2 separate regions of the Homo sapiens genome follow, and region 2 is linked to region 1. The links come from fine-mapping of genetic effects on gene expression. Tissue or cell type: breast. Region 1 holds a variant in brackets; the other region holds the start of a gene. All regions are shown on one strand. Distances are between the middles of the regions.

The links. PIP is the estimated chance that this variant, and not a neighbour inherited with it, causes the effect.
Region 2: ASTL starts here. The variant in region 1 is fine-mapped to the expression of ASTL in breast (GTEx, PIP 0.97).

Annotation. Positions count from the first base shown.
Region 1 is chr2:96,081,003-96,083,687 of GRCh38, reverse strand. No RefSeq gene overlaps it. Among named protein-coding and RNA genes, the nearest start is that of ADRA2B, 34 kb to the left of the region's middle. The variant T/C (reference allele first, on the strand shown) is at 1,382.
Region 2 is chr2:96,137,298-96,139,982 of GRCh38, reverse strand. It overlaps ASTL (astacin like metalloendopeptidase), which reads left to right and starts at 1,481. Exons shown (of 9, transcript NM_001002036.4): 1 at 1,481-1,601; 2 at 2,283-2,408. The coding sequence starts at 1,547. RefSeq lists a silencer at 577-666 and an enhancer at 1,557-1,626.

The sequences.
Region 1 (2,685 bases):
GTGCATGGCCTCTGACTATGCACTCCTGGGGTAGGGCAGGGCCTGGGAGGGCTTGGCAGACGTGGCCTTCTGCATGCCTCTCTGCTGAGGTTGGGGCACGAGGCTAGGCCAGCCAGAATTTTTGGGCCACCTCTGGCTGAGCACAGAAGGCAGCTGTCCCCAGTGGAGGGGTGGGGGCCTTGGCCCTTGGAAGCAGGTCATGGGATGTGGATGCTTAGATATGTGCGGACGTGAGCAGCTCTGCAGTCCTTGGCCCCTGGCTGGCCAGCCCCGGCGCCAGGCCTGACTTCCCCTCCTCCTGACACTGCCAGGCTGGAGGCCAGTGGCTGACCGAGCAGGCTCTGCCTTGGGCTGAGCTGGAGTAGGGAGGGTCTGCAGGACTAAGGAAAAGTCCACTGCTAAAGCTATGGCAGCCTCCATCTCATCAGCCTCCTAATTAAAGTGACACTGCACAGTGCCTGCCAAATTCATTGGATGTTGACCCCAGGATGTGGTGGCCCTCCCAGGACTAGGGGAAGAGGCAGGTGGGCTTCCTGGCCACCTAAGGCAGCCTGAGAGCTGCCCATGAGTGGGGTGGGAGGGAGGGCAGCTGTGTAAGCTACACTGGGCTCGGAGAGACAGGAGATGTGAGTCCCTGTCCCTGCCTGTTCCTTATAAGTGGTGTGGTCTTGGGCAAGCAGCTTCCCTCCTCTCTAAGGAAGTTATGAGGTCAGTTACACTCTTGGGAGTGGAGAAGCTTCCTTTGTAAACTGTGAAGTGCTGCCAGAATGGGAGGTGGAGAGGAGAGCTGGCCTTCCAATCGATGACCTGATGACCTCAGCTGGCCAAGCAAAGAGGTCCTGGGGGACAGGCAGGTGTCTTGGCCCTCTCTCCATTTTGTCCCCTTGCAGACTAGCCGTGGGCTGGGGTAAGTATGAGTCCAAGACTGGACCCCGGCCTGGCCAGGACACAGGCTTGGAGCCTTGCATTTTGCAGGCTGGAAGGACATCCTTGAGAGAAGAGCTATTACCAAGGCGGGATGGATCTGATAGCTTTGTGAAGTGATCAGCAAAGAGTGAGCACCCAGGCTGTCCAAACCTCAGGCCTTGGAAGAAGTGTGGCACTCGCAGGACTGCCTGCTCATGGCAAGGCACCAAGGTACGACCTTGTGTGGGTCACGGGAGCCGCACAAGCCAATACTCTTACCTTTTGCCTGGAAAGGCCTGGAGATGCAGGCCCACCTGGGCCACCTGAGTTACGCACAAGTGTGTTAGTTCAGCACCTCCTCCCCTGCAGATAGACCTCTTGCCCAGGATCACAGGGATGGTCAGTAATAGCCCGAGCCAGGACTCCAGGGCTTAGGGCCTGGGCAGCTGCCGGAGGTGGGGGGTTGTCTACCTTG[T/C]GGCCCCTCCCAGAAAACATGCTTGTAATTTGGAACTCTGGTTGTGCAGCCGCCCCGTTGGCAGCTTGAGAGGAGCACGTGTTGGTGAGAAGGAACATGGCATCCTCTGCCTTGCTCTGGTCTGGCCTCTCATCCTGCGATGCAGGGGCTCCATCCACAACTCTCTGTGAAGAAGAAATACAGACTTTCTCAGACAAACGAAAATTGAGGAAATTTATTGTCAGTACACGTGCCTTGTAAGAAATATTGAAAGTTCTTCAAAGAAAAAGAAAAACATGTAAGTCAGAAACTTGGATCTATATAAAGAAAGAGAGCACTGAAGAAGGAATGAGGGAGGATAAAATAGAAAGTGTTTTTTTTTTATTCTGAATTGATCTAACAGGTAACAGTTTGTTCAAAATAATAATAGCAACAATATATTCAATTATTTAATCGTATATGTATATTATACACATAGAAACATATACTTAAGTATGCTTATGTATGAGTAAAATAAATGAGAGCAGACATAAGAGGCAGGAGGCAGGAATTGGGATTATTTTGTTATTATAAGATACTTGGTACAACCCATGAAGTAGTATTTGGTATTTGAAGATGGATTTGCATTAGTTGTAGACGTATACTGCAAATCTAGGGAAAATACTGAAACAAGTGAAAAAAATAAGAAGAAAAGTATTTTTTTTAAAAAGGAAGTTGTCTTAGTGCGCTTGGGCTGCTATAACAAAATACCTCAGACTGCATAATTTATAAATAATACAAATTTATTTTTCATAGTTCTGGAGGCTGGGAAGTCTAAGATCAAGGGAAGAGCAGATTTGGTGTCTGATAAGGGCTCACTCTCTGCTTCCAAGGTGGTACCTTCCTGCTGTGTCCTTGCGTGGTGGAAAAGATGAATAGCCCCCTCTCACCTATTTTGTTAAAGCACTAATCCATTATTGAGGGCTCCACCCTCATGACTTAATCACCTCCTAAGGGCCTCATTTCTTATCATATTGGTGGTTACATTTCAACATATGAATTTTGGGGGAACATATTCAGACCATAGCAGAAATATGCTGACTATTTATTTTTTGGTCATATAAAATGCTCAATTAAAAACCACAAAAGGCAGAAAAAGAGTGGGAGGAAAAATAGAGGAACAAATAACAAGGCAACAAATAGAAAAACAGTAACGGGTATGGTAGATATTAATCTATGTCAATAATAATTTTGAATGCCAATGGTGTAAATATACTAAGACAGAGATTCTGCAAAGCAAAAGAAACTATCAACAGGGTAAACAGACAACCCATAGAATGAAAGAA
Region 2 (2,685 bases), 56 kb before region 1:
CCCGAGTAGGTGGGATTACAGGTGCCCGCCACCGTGCCCAGCTAATTTTTGTATTCTTTTAGTAGAGATGGGGTTTCACCATGGTGGCCAGTCTGGTCTTGAATTCCTGACCTCGTGATCCACCTGCCTTGGCCTCCCAAAGTGCTGGGATTATAGGCGTGAGCCACCGCGCCCTCCTGAACACTCATCTTAAGTGGTCAGCCTTGTGCATTTGTTTTTTGATGGGTCCTATTCTTTATTTTACTTATTTTTTCTAGGTTTACTGAGGCATAATCGACAAATAAAAGTAGTATATGTTTAAGTATACAACGTGATGTTTTGACATATGCATACCTTGTGAAATGATGACCACAACAAGCTAACTAGCATATCCATGGTGTGTATCCTGACATCTGTCAATACCCTGCCCTGGCAGCAGGGCGTCTGCCTCCATCATGGTCTCCCTGTGATTCTGATTCCTATCTTTGGAGAAGCTCTGGATTCCAGGCACAGTGGGAATGCTGAAAGGTCCTTGTGGACAATAGCTATTCTTCTTGGCTCTGTCGCTTCCCTTCACTGGGTGCAGGTGACTGTGGGGGTGTCCCCAAATGCTGCCCAGCGCTGACATGCTCCGCCTCTGGGATTTCAATCCAGGTGGGGCCCTGAGTGACCTGGCTCTGGGGCTCAGGGGTATGGAGGAGGGGGGATATAGGTAAGGAGTTTAAATTTCCAAATCTGTGAAATGGGAATAAATACTGACTGATCATGCCAGCTGCTGTGGGATTAGGGGGTGGACTCCCTGCGAGGCTCTGGGCATCTGGGGGTTCCACCTTTCCCACATGGCAGGCTTTCTAGGGTGCTGCACACTGTTCAGTTTGTGAAATTTCCTGGAGCCCTGTGCTTGTGATAGTGAACTTTTCTATATGTGTACTAAAATAAAAGCTTGTGAAAGTGCAGTGACCTTTTCCTCCTTCCGGAGATACACGGGGGGCGCCCCAGGGTCTCAGGCAGCTTTCCCCATGTCTAAGCACAGGCCGGGGTAGGAAAGGGGGTCTCCCTCGCTGGAGGAATAGGTCTATACCTGGGCTGGGGCCTCAGCTAGGCCTGGAGCAACTTTCTGCGATGTTTCTCTGCCCCCTGGAGGCAGGAAGGAACCTCAGAAGAGCCACACTCCCAAGCGGGCCCCTCCTGTCTTTCACCTGCTACAGCCAGGAAGGGGACTGGGCTGGGGTGGGAACCACAGGTAGGCATCGGAGGGGCTGCCAGTAGACCTGGTTTGGGTGGCGCTGCCGGTAGAGCTGGTTGGGGCGGGGCTGCAGGTGGAGCTGGTTGGGGCGGGGCTGCAGGTGGAGGTGGTTGGGGCGGGGCTGCAGGTGGAGATGGTTGGGGCGGGGCTGCAGGTGGAGGTGGTTGGGGCGGGGCTGCAGGTGGAGGCGGTTGAGGGGAGCAAGGTGGGAGGTGGAGCAGCTGCTATTTAAGAGGGGGTGGTGGTGCCGGTTCTGCAATTAGGTTACTGTGTCTTGCTGGGGCTTGGTCTTGTTTGCTGAAGGGGCAGCAGGGCTCTACCATGGAGGGTGTAGGGGGTCTCTGGCCTTGGGTGCTGGGTCTGCTCTCCTTGCCAGGTAAGCTGGCTGCCTGTCCCTCCTGCTGCTGGCTCCAGCCTGGAGAAAGCTGGGGAGAGGCTAGAAGGTTGTGGCTGGAGCCTGCAGGGATTGTAGCTGAGCTCAGTAGCTCAGAGCACAGAGCTCTCCAGGGTTATTCTAGAAGTCAGCTCCTGGGGGGCCAAGGGGAGGCCTCCTGAAGGCCCTGGAAGCAGAGGGCCTGCCTGGCAGAAGATAAGTGTTGTGCCCCAGGCCTACTTGTCTTGGGGTGGGGGTAGGCTGTAAGTCCCCACTCCAGCCTGGTCAGGCAGGGAGTCATCCAGGCTGAGCCCATTGTCCAAGAGCCTGGGCTGAGAGAGAGTCATAAGGTGGGGTCTGAGGCTGGCCCTGCCCGTCACGGGCGTCAGAACCCGAGGTCTGTCCTGCCTCCTTCCTTCCTGCCCCTCCTCTACCTCATAGGTGGGGCACATGGTCCCTTTTGGTCCCCCTAAGGGAGCTCCTTCCCTGAGGTCATCTAGACCTTGGCACCAGTTGGGGTTGAGCAGGGAGGCTGGGAAGGCTCCTTGGCTTTGTGCTGGAGCCTACTCTTCCTAGGGACTGAGTCTTACCGTCTGATCCCCCACACCCACCCCATGTCCTGCTGTCTGGTCTCACCGGTGGGTGCTCCAGGCATCTGTGTATGCCCCTGTCTGTCTGGACCAGGTGTGATCCTAGGAGCGCCCCTGGCCTCCAGCTGCGCAGGAGCCTGTGGTACCAGCTTCCCAGATGGCCTCACCCCTGAGGGAACCCAGGCCTCCGGGGACAAGGACATTCCTGCAATTAACCAAGGTGAGGGCACTACATCTTCTCACGGCCTGGAGGGGCACGACGTTATGTAGTGTGAAAACCACACCGAACACTCAGAAATGCAGAGCCTGGGAGGAAATGGACCAGCTTACTCTGGGCTCTAAGTGGTTTTTAAGAGATGGAGTGGTGTTGCTATATTGCCCCGGCTGGTCTTGAACTCCTGGCCTTAAGTGATCTTCCTGCCTCTGCCTCCCGAGCAGCTGGGACTACAGGTGTGAATGGGTGGAAATTCTATGGGCAATTGCTTAAGTCTACTCTT